Homo sapiens: one gene and its partners. The protein of the gene in region 1 interacts with the protein of each later gene in a biochemical or structural test. Each region holds a gene or a part of one and is shown in the gene's direction. Other genes may lie near its edges.

Region 1 (3,653 bases):
AATAAATATGATTTAACTTACTTTGGTATCGCCAGGCACGGTGGCTCATGCCTGTGATCCCAGCACTTTGGGAGGCCGAGGCAGGCAGATCACCTGAGGTTGGGAGTTCAAGACCAGCCTGACCAACGTGGAGAAACCCCGTCTCTATTAAAAATACAAAATTAGTCAGGCGTGGTGGCAAATGCCTGTAATCCCAGCTACTCGGGAGGCTGAGGCAGGAGAATTACTTGAATCCCAGAGGCAGAGGTTGCAGTGAGCCAAGATCATGCTGTTGCACTCCAGCCTGGGCAACAAGAGTGAAACTCTGCCTCAAAAATTAAAAATAAATAAATAAAAAACTTACTTTGGTATCACTTCATTATAGAAGGAAAATAAAGTGTGAGGTCAAAATCTTTTTCCCTTCTAATAGAAAGCAAAGAATATGCCAGTATACATCAAGAAGGCACTTTCGTATAAATTATGAAATTTAACCCAATTGAAAATATGCAGAAATAGATAGTTCAGCATACCTAAATTTGAAAACAGCACGTGCATGATTCTGTAGGGTAATACTTTGGGGACATGACATGTTGTCTTTTTATACTTTGCTAATCTGACATGCCTTTATTATATTTAACACTGAGATATGAATACAAATACATCTTCATATTTGTTTTTACAGGAAGTTATTCCAACTTTTGACATGGCTGTCAATGAAATCTTCTTTGACCGTTACCCTGACTCAATCTTAGAACATCAGATTCAAGTAAGACCATTCAACGCATTGAAGACTAAGAATATGAGAAACCTGAATCCAGAAGGTAATGTATTTTTCATAGGATTACTTTTGTTGAAGGAAAATGCCTTACATGAAAATAGCCTTGTTTTCATTGAGAAATTATGAAAGAAGTAATTGGCGGTGGTAGTCAAGGTGACGGATTATAAATTGACAATAATATAGATTCAGTTATCCTATATACTTATGAACCCCCTATACTTTTTAAATTTAATTGAAGTTTCTGATATAAGAGATGTGACTATTGGCCGGGCACAGTGGCTCACGCCTATAATCCCAGCACTTCAGGAGGCCGAGGCAGGCGGATCACCTGAGGTCAGGAGTTTGAGACCAGCCTGGCCAACATGGCAAAACTCCTTTACTAAAAATAGAAAAATTACCAGGGCATGGTGGCACACGCCTGTAGTCCCGGCTACTCTCGGGAGGCTGAGGCAGGAGAAACGCTTGAACCCGGGAGGCGGAGGTTGCACTGAGCAGAGGCTGTGCCATTGCACTCCAGCCTGGGTGACAGAATGAGACCCTGTCTCAAAAAAAAAAAAAAATTAGATTTTAAAGATTTGAGGATCACTTGAGGCCAGGAGTTTGAGACCAGCTTGAGTGACATAAGAGACTCCATCTCTTTTTAAGAAGAAATTAGCAAGGCACAGTGGCTCACACATGTAATCCTAGCACTCTGGGAGGCTGAGGTGACGGGCTTACTTGAGCCTGGCAGGTTGAGGCTTCAGTGAGCAGTGATTGCACCACTGTACTCCAGTCTGGGCAACAGGTTAAGACCCCATCTCAACAACAACAAAATTGTAGAGGTCTCATGAATCAGTGGCAGGATAGGGTGATCTTCACGGCTAGCAGTGGCTAAATACAGGCCAGAACAGGGTAGCTTGTCTGAAACCAGCAGGGGAAATTAGTTGCGGGCAGTGGGACCTTCAAAGGGAAAAAGTTGTCTGTCAGGAAAGGTTCAAATAATAGAGGAAACGAGCAAGAGTGAAAGATCAGAGCATCTAAGGGGTTCTCCTGTGTGGATAATAATGACTTTAAAGTATAGAGGACTTTTTCTCTACCAGGTGCTCTTACTAGGCTTGAAGTACATTGGCACGTTCAGTCCTTGGCTCTGGGATAGGTGCTGATACCACCCCATTCTATAGGGGACACAAAATGTACACAGAAAGGCTAGGGTCAGGACTCAGTCCAGGCTGTCTGGCTTTTTTCCTGACACAGCAGGGTGTCATACAGGAGGCCAGGTGAGTGAGGCAGGAGGCAGGGAGCAGGGTAGGCAGACAAGAAGGGAACGAGGGATGCCTGCTGGACAGGGGCCCTGAGGAAGAAGGGCCAGAGGTTCGCTGGGCTTGAGAGTCTCCTGAAGACATAGCCTGCAGATGACTGGACACAGAAAGGTCGCCCTAGGCAGAGTCTTGGGCACCTAGCTCCTGTCTGTGATCCCAGCTATTCCTGGACCTCCACACCTCAGGTCAGGTGTGCTGACCTCTCTTCTCCCCTCACAGACATTGACCAGCTCATCACCATCAGCGGCATGGTGATCAGGACATCCCAGCTGATTCCCGAGATGCAGGAGGCCTTCTTCCAGTGCCAAGTGTGTGCCCACACGACCCGGGTGGAGATGGACCGCGGCCGCATTGCAGAGCCCAGTGTGTGCGGGCGCTGCCACACCACCCACAGCATGGCACTCATCCACAACCGCTCCCTCTTCTCTGACAAGCAGATGGTGCGCAGCCACCCTGGCCCCCCAGGCTATGCTTTGCCTGTCTGTATCCTCAAAAGGCCAACTATAACTTGTCCCTCGGACCCTGAGCCTCACTTCCCGAATGGCATCCATCCCTCTCTGGTCTTGTGGGTTTCGTTAGTGGCCTATGGGCTAAATATGCAGAGCACGCAAAGCCCCTGCTTCAGGGCACTGTCCCTGTGCTGTTGCCAGTGGCACTGTCTGTTGTTAGAGACACTGTATTTTCATGGCCTAAAATGCTTCAAACGTTTGAGATGAGAATACTTGGTTAAATGTCATTCTGCTTTTTCCATTGGTAAAGGATTGAGGAATTTTTCTGAAATTTTTTCACAAATTTTACTGTCTAAGAAGTTTGGTCTTTTTTCTCTATATTCATGAAATTTTAAGATGAAGTTATTAAAATGACAGAAAAAAGTGAGGGGAAGGTAGAAAATTGCTTATTTACCGTGATTGTGACTGTAAAGATGTGGGAGGACAGGATTTGAGTTTTTCTGTGACTGCGTGTGCATGGTTTCTTTAATGTTGCATGGGATGGAGAGCTGGAGACAGAAAGGCAGGCACCCTGCTCCGCAGGAGCACATGGCCTCCTATTCTCAGAATCATGCAGGCCCCCAAAGTGGCTTAGAGAAAAGCCCAGCATCCTTAGGCCTCTCAGAGGGTACCTGGTTTGGAAAGGCCTTCCTCGACCCTGCTTTATGAAAAGCATCTCAGCTTCCCCCACCGCAGCTCCCTACATTCCTTCCCCTGTTTTGTTGCTGTCTGTTGCAGCAACTTCTTTAGAAGAAGTAATTTCTAAGGAAATAATGAGAAACATGGACAATCATTTATGTGGGGATATGCACTGCAGCCTTATATGGCAAAAGCAGTACAAAGACATGCAGATTTTGTCCCCCTGCCCTCTCTTTGTGGCCCACATGTTCTCTGTTTGCTGACCTTCAGATCAAGCTTCAGGAGTCTCCGGAAGACATGCCTGCAGGGCAGACACCACACACAGTTATCCTGTTTGCTCACAATGATCTCGTTGACAAGGTCCAGCCTGGGGACAGAGTGAATGTTACAGGTAAGAGTGTAGGTTTGCACCAGCACTTGAGCATGTCTGGCTTGCTTTCAATGCTGTGCTTTAGTGAGTCATTGGACTTG
Region 2 (3,653 bases), on another chromosome or scaffold:
TTTGGCCCAGGCATGGTGGCTTATGCCTGTAATTCCAGCACTTTGGGAGACCGAAGCAGGTGGATCACCTGAAGTTAGGAGTTCGAGACCAGCCTGACCCACATAGTGAAACCCTGTCTCTACTGAAAATAAAAAAATTAGCCAGGTGTGGTGGTGGGCACCTGTAATCCTAGCTACTGGGGAGGCTGAGGCAGGAGAATTGCTTGAACCCAGGAGGCGGAGGTTGCAGTGAGCCGAGATTGCACCATTGCATTCCAGCCTGGGCAACAAGAGTCAAACTCCATCTCAAAAATAAGTAATAAAATTTTAAAAAATAAAATATTTCTTTGAATTACACAGGACGTTTGTCACTGATCTGTGTTCCTGAACTATGAAACATAGATCTGGGGGCTAAGGAAAAATTTCTCTTGATATTTATCAACAATTAGCAAGTACTGTAAAAACAAAAAATAGAATAGCCGTAAGACTGCCAAACAGGCATGTACCTTAAACTTGAAATTTCTATCAGGAGAAAATTATGCCTGTCCTAGATAAATATTGAAGGCTGTATTCCTGTTTTGCTAGTGTGAAAAATTAAGTGATGATTACCCACTCTTTTCAGAAAGGAGAAGATGAGTATGCCAACGTTGATGCCATTGTTGTATCAGTGGGTGTTGATGAAGAAATTGTTTATGCCAAATCAACTGCCTTACAGGTGAGAGATTTACAGCAATTTTTAGCTCTTAGAGTTGTTGGATTATCTACTGCACTGTTCAGTATGGTAGCCACATTAAAACTTAAATTCCTGGCTGGCTGCGGTGGCTCATGCCTGTAATCCCAGCACTTTGGGAGGCCGAGGCAGGTGGATTGCTTGAGCCCAGGAGTTCAAGACCAGCCTGGACAACATGGCAAAACCCTGTCTTTACAAGAAATACAAAAAAATTAAGCAGATGTGGGGGTGTGCACCTGTAGTCCCAGCTACTCAGGAGGCTGAGATGGGAGGATGGCATGACCCCAGGAGGTAGAGGTTGCAGTAAGCCAAGATTGCACCATTGCACTCCAGCCTGGGCAACACAGTGAGACCCTGTCTCTTACTTTAAAAAATTTCAATTTCTCAGTCCCATCAGCTGTGTTTCTGGTACTCAGCAGTGGCTACCCCATATTGGACAGAGCAGATAAATGGTATTTTCACCATCACATAAAGTTCAATTGGATTTAGCAGTGATTTAAGACATAAGGAAAAAGAAGTATTAATATCAGTATGGATTTAGCTGCTATAACACAAAAACCTAAGTAACAGTGAGTTAAACAAAATATTCTTTTCCTTATGTATAGTCTTCAGGGACCCAGGCTTTTTCCAGTTCTCTGTTCTGCCACCCAAAGAACATAGCCCTCTTGCACGTGGTACAGAATGGCTTCTAGAACTCCAGGTGTTTCATCTACATTCCAAGCAAAAAGAGACAGAGAAGAAAACAGGAGGCCACCTTTTCTTTTTAAGAAGACTTGCTTGAAGCTCCACACACTACCATTTTTTACCTATTGGCCAAAATTTGATCCTAATGACCATACTTACCTGAAAGGAAGGTAAAATATCAGTTCTTTGAGAAGGAGAAATGAATAATTGGTAGGGAACTGGTAATTGAGGAGGTAATAACGCAGGGTTCTGTATCACTCTGTCCCTTGTTTTATGCATTTCTGTATCACTAAACATTGATATACTTCCTATAAACACAAATCGTTTAACTGATTTGATGGTTTTAATTATAGAAAGTTCAAGCATATAAACGTAGAGAAAATAATACATTGAACCCCATTGTCCTGTTCTAATAAATTGTCGACTCTTGGCCGATCTTGCTTAATTTGTATCCACTCCAGACTCCCCAGCCTGATTACCTTGGAGTTAATTTCAGACATGTTATTTTTGTCTATAAGTATTTCTGTATATCTATATGAGTCCATTAATTTTTGTATCTGTAAATACCGTTGTCACTGTTGTCTTTTTCCATAGACATGGCTCTTTGGTTATGAACTAACTGATACTATCATGGTCTTTTGTGATGACAAAATCATCTTTATGGCCAGCAAGAAAAAAGTGGAGTTCTTGAAACAGATTGCCAACACTAAGGGCAATGAGAATGCTAATGGAGCCCCTGCCATCACACTGCTAATACGAGAAAAGGTCAGGATTAATAAAGAATGTGTCATAAATGTGGAAGAATCTTCAAAAGGGATGAACAGAAATGCCTTATAGGAGTTTGAAAGAATGCGCAGGGGAAATTATAGGTGGCTGTGGTTGTAATTACAAAGTTCTGTCACGTCTTCATTGTTAGGAGGAAAAGAATTCAATAATCCTATCAGTTCTGCTGTAAAACAAATGAGCTATGAAATTCTGGTGAACACTGATTTTATGTCTCCATTCTTGAGGACACTGTTAGTTTGTTTTCATCTGTATGCCTTGATTAGAGCAAATAACCTTAAATATCCTTAAGGAAACTTAGATATACATCATTTCCAGTTTTTATCAAATGTGAATTTTTTTTGTCATACTGCCCACCTAACATGGGATGTTTTCTCAGAATATTGTTCACTTATGTGTTTGAGTTTCTTAACTGTTTCTGAAGAAAAAGGATAGTTGTATCAGACGTGGTGGCACACACCCGTAGTCCCAGCTGCTCAGGAGGCTGAGATGGGAGGATTGCTTGAGCCCAGGTGTTTGAGACCAGCCTGGGCAACGTGAGACCCCTTCTCTTAAAAAAAGGAATAGTCTGGTCAACTTACGGCAGCACTTTCACCTGAGTATATAAAAATATCTAAAGAAATGTTTTGCTCACTTTTGATATATTACAATCTTCCTTAAAGATGGGAAGGCATCTTACAGGTAGGCCAGGCATGGTGGCTCATGGCTGTAATCCCAATACTTTGAGAGGCCGAGGCGAGCACTTGAGCGCAGGAGTTCCAGATGAGCCTGGGCAACATGACAAAACCCCATCTCTACAAAAAATACAAAAATTATTCAGGAAGGCTGGGTGCAGTGGATCACTTGAGGTCTGGAGTTCAAGACCATCCTGGGCAAGATAACAAAACCCCATCTCTACTAAAAATATAAAAAATTAGCCGGGCATGTTGTCACACACCTGTAATCCCAGCTGCTCGGGAGGCTGAGGCATGAGAATCACTTGAACCCGGGAGGCTGAGGTTGCAGTGAGTGTAGATTGCGCCGCTGCACTCCAGCCTGGCAACAGAGCAAGTCTGTCTCAAAAAAAAAAAAAAATTTATCCAGGCATGGTGGTATGAACCTGTAGTCCCAGCTACTTGGGAGGCCGAGGCAGGAGGATTGCTTGAACTTGGGAGTTCGAGGTTGCAGTAAGCTGTGATCACACCACTGTGCTCTACCCTGGGGGTAGTAGAACAAGACCCTGTCTCTTTAAAAGTAAAAAGTAGGTGGGGATGGGAGGAGAATTAATTTTTTCCGTAGTTTAGAATATTATTCTACCTGTTACTGGTAAAACGTGTCTAATGAACTGGTAAAACATATGTGTCTTTTCTTCCCTATGACACTGACAGAATGAAAGTAATAAGAGTAGCTTTGACAAAATGATTGAAGCCATTAAAGAAAGCAAGAATGGCAAGAAGATTGGAGTGTTCAGCAAAGACAAATTCCCTGGAGAGTTCAT
Region 3 (3,653 bases), on another chromosome or scaffold:
TTTGAGATTGCCAAAAGCAAGGGCTGATGTCCCTCATCTACACCAGAGTCCTCTTGTTGAATACCGGACATTAATCATCTTAGTTTCTGTGTAGGATGAACTTAACATTTTTCACAGTTAAAAAAAAATGGTACAAAACAAAAATTTTAAACAACTTTAAATAAGCTTAACCGTCCCTTAATAATAGTATATGAGATTGTTCATCTTGGCAATTTCTGATTGTGATGACTTTCCTGCTTTAGTTACTTCACTATTGATGTAGTTTAGTTTAGAGGTTGTATTAGGGGTCTCTAAAGGGTCAGAACTGATAGGATAGATGAATATATGAAGGGGAGTTTATTAGGAGAATGACTCACATGATCACAAGGTAAAATCCCACAATAGGCTGGGGAGCAAGGAAGCCAGCCTGAGTCCCAAAATCTCAAAAGTAGGGAAGCCACCAGTGTAGGCTTCAGTCCGTGGCTGAAGGCCTAAGAGCTCCTGGTGAACCACTGGTGTAGGTCCAAGAGTCCAAAAGCTGAAGAACTTGGAGTCTGATGTTTGAGGGCAGGAAGCATCCAGCATGAGAGAAAGGTGGAGGCGGAAGACTCAGCCAGTCTGCTCTTTACATGCCTGCCTTTATGCTGGCAGCTGATTAGATGCTGCCCACCCAGACTGAGGGTGGGTCTGCCTCTCCCAGCCCGCTGACTCAAATGTTAATCTCCTTTGGCAACACCCTCACAGACACATCCAGGAACAATAATTTTCATCCTTCAATCCAGTCAGATTGACAAAGTATTAACCATCACAGAGGTTAAGAGCACAGACAGGCAGGCAGCCTGGGTTGGAGTCCTGACTTGGCCACTTACTAGCTATGTCACCTTGGGCTTGGTTTCCTCATTGTAAATAAGGGTAGATGTGAGGTTTTGGTGAATTTGTACGTGTAAGGCATTGAACGTTGTCTGTCACATGGTACGTACTATGGAAAAGGTTATTATGCTTGTATTAAAAAATACAGGAGTATGAATTTATTACTTCAGTGTCTATAGATTCTATAAAGTCAAGATCTAAAAGATTAGCTATTTGTTTTGGTCGTCTCACAAATCTATCATCTGCAGATTTATTTAGCAAGTCTGAAAAATTCATACTTTCATTGCTTGTCTACTCAGTCTTCGAGGGATCATGTAAGAATTAAATTTAGGAAAAACAATTAGCAAGATAAGAGATGAATGGATTCTCCACACGCTGAATAATAGATACCAGATGGCTTTTGAGAAAAAGACCCCAGTTTTTGAGATCTGCTGTCAAGTATTCGATGTCCCGGCCAATAGTTCAAGGAGTACCTGTGTTTTGAAATAGCCTTATGAGTGACATCCTACATTCCATTTATTGAAGTGCTGAATAACAAATATTATTGTTTCTGGCCAGGCATGGTGGCTCACGCCTGTAATCCCAGCACTTTGAGAGGCCAAGGCAGGCAGATCACTTGAGGTCAGGAGTTCGAGACCAGCCTGGCCAACATAGTGAAACCCTGTCTCTACTAAAAATACAAAAATTAGCCAGGCATGGTGGTGTGCACCTGTAATCTCAGCTACTCAGGAGGCTGAGGCATGAGAATCGCTTGAACCCAGGAGGCAGAGGTTGCAATGAGCCAAGATCGCATCACTGCACTCCAGCCTGGGCAACACAGTGAGACTCCATCCAAAAAAAAAATAAAAATAAAAATACCGTTCTTGAAAAATTGAATAAATGCATTATTTCATGATATGTCTTAACAAGCCTGAAGTCTGTGTGATGTAACACTTTAGAATGAGAGGCCACTTTCTGTTCTTTAAGGAGATGTACAGGTGGAAATATTCTTGGCTTTAACTCTAATTTTGTTTTCCAAGATGCACATTATTTTTGCATCTGTGCAATTGATGTCTCTCTAAATTGAAACTTTATCACCTCTCCACAGGGATGCCTCTGCACTGCTGGATCCGATGGAGTGCACAGACACAGCAGAGGAGCAGAGAGTACACAGTCCTCCTGCTTCATTAGTGCCGAGAATTCATGTGATCTTAGCCCAGAAGTTGCAACACATCAACCCATTATTGCCTGCCTGCCTTAACAAAGAGGAGAGCAAAACCTGTAAGTGTAAGTGTTACAGCCTAGTCAACTATCGACTGTTAGCCTCAGTGTGTCCAGAGCTGCCTGTAACGTGCTCATAGTGGAATTGAGAGTCAGGTCTTCATTCCTCACAATAAGTGTTTTCAGTAATCTCTCTCTCGTTGCCCCATTTTTCTCTTACATTAATTCTCTTCACTGAAATGAGGACAAAAGAGTATACAAGGCTGGGTGCAGTGGCTCACGCCTGTAATCTTAGCACTTTAGGAGGCCAAGGTGGGTGGATCACCTGAGGTCAGGAGTTCGAGACTAGCCTGGCCAATATAGTGAAACCCTGGCTCTACTAAAAATACAAAATTAGCCAGGTGTGGTGGCGTGTGCCTGTAATCCCAGCTACTCGGGAGGCTGAGGCAGGAGAACTGGAGGCAGAGGTTGCGGTGAGCTGAGATGGCACCATTGCACTCCAGGCTAGGCAAAAAGAGCAAAACTTGGTCTCAAAAAAAAAAAAAAGGAGGATGCAAACTGCCTTATTTTTAAGATTAGCATCACTTACTGACGGATATGTTAAGCTTTACCTACTGTCGACTGAATTGTGCTTTGCTCACGTAGTTATTTTTTTACCTAAGACACTTGAGAGGAACTGGAGTGTGTGTCCTGACTCAGGTCTTCCTTTCTCCTTCAGTTGTTTCAAGTTTCATGTCCGAATTGTCTCCAGTCAGAGCAGAACTTCTTGGGTTCCTTACTCATGCCCTTCTGGGGGATAGTTTGGCTGCTGAATACCTTATATTACATCTCATCTCCACAGTGTAAGTGCTGTATCCTGGTGGGAATTAGGGGAGTTTGGTGTGTGTGGAAGTGGAAGAGCGGGAAGATTGCTGGTGTCATTTGTGTGTTTTCCTTATTGGGCTTCATCACATGGTTTTTATCTGTCCAGTGTTAACTGTTATACCAAATCACAGACAAATTCCTTTTCTCACAGTTCACATTTAGCATTTTGATTATGTCCCCTTAAATTTTAGAGCCAAAATCAGATAAAGCAGTGGTCCCCAACCTTTTAGGCACCAAGGACCCATTTCATGGAAGACCATTTTTCCATGGACCGGAGTGGGGATGGTTTCAGTATGAAACCGTTCCACCTCAGAACATCAGGCATTAGTTAGATTCTCATAGGGAACACACAGATGTGCAGTTCACAATAGGGTTCGCGCTCCTGTGAGAGTCTGATGCCACTGCTGATCTGACAGGAGGCGGAACTCAGGCGGTAATGCCCACTCATCCACCCCTCACCTCCTATGTTGTGGCCCGGTTCCTAACAGGCCATGAACCAGTACTGGTCCACGGCCTGGGCGTTGGGGACCCCTGAGATAAAGGACCTGGCTGATGAGTAAAATGAGCTGTTTTATCCCTTTTGCATTCTGAACGCTCTGTTTATACATCCCAAGGCGCCCACGTCATGTGCACGTTTAACGTGGACATTGACACTAGCACCGCATCCCTTGACTCCACTGTATTTCTTTGTTTCTCATTTTAAAACTAGTGTGGGCCTTTGACAAGTTCCAAGAACATAA

Evidence for each region.
Region 2: the proteins of MCM4 (region 1) and SUPT16H form a complex in vitro, tested with the Homo sapiens proteins (one study listed by BioGRID and IntAct).
Region 3: the proteins of MCM4 (region 1) and MCMBP form a complex in vitro, tested with the Homo sapiens proteins (2 studies listed by BioGRID).

The regions. Positions count from the first base shown.
Region 1 is NC_000008.11:47,963,913-47,967,565, forward strand, and holds part of MCM4 (DNA replication licensing factor MCM4), read left to right. Parts: intron 1-661; coding exon 662-800; intron 801-2,274; coding exon 2,275-2,495; intron 2,496-3,452; coding exon 3,453-3,573; intron 3,574-3,653. UniProt on the Homo sapiens protein: Acts as a component of the MCM2-7 complex (MCM complex) which is the replicative helicase essential for 'once per cell cycle' DNA replication initiation and elongation in eukaryotic cells.
Region 2 is NC_000014.9:21,370,379-21,374,031, reverse strand, and holds part of SUPT16H (FACT complex subunit SPT16), read left to right. Parts: intron 1-601; coding exon 602-694; intron 695-1,335; exon of another isoform or gene 1,336-1,563; intron 1,564-1,987; coding exon 1,988-2,158; intron 2,159-3,543; coding exon 3,544-3,653. UniProt on the Homo sapiens protein: Component of the FACT complex, a general chromatin factor that acts to reorganize nucleosomes. The FACT complex is involved in multiple processes that require DNA as a template such as mRNA elongation, DNA replication and DNA repair.
Region 3 is NC_000010.11:119,841,710-119,845,362, reverse strand, and holds part of MCMBP (mini-chromosome maintenance complex-binding protein), read left to right. Parts: intron 1-1,936; coding exon 1,937-2,109; coding exon of another isoform or gene 2,110-2,115; intron 2,116-2,767; coding exon 2,768-2,891; intron 2,892-3,653. UniProt on the Homo sapiens protein: Associated component of the MCM complex that acts as a regulator of DNA replication.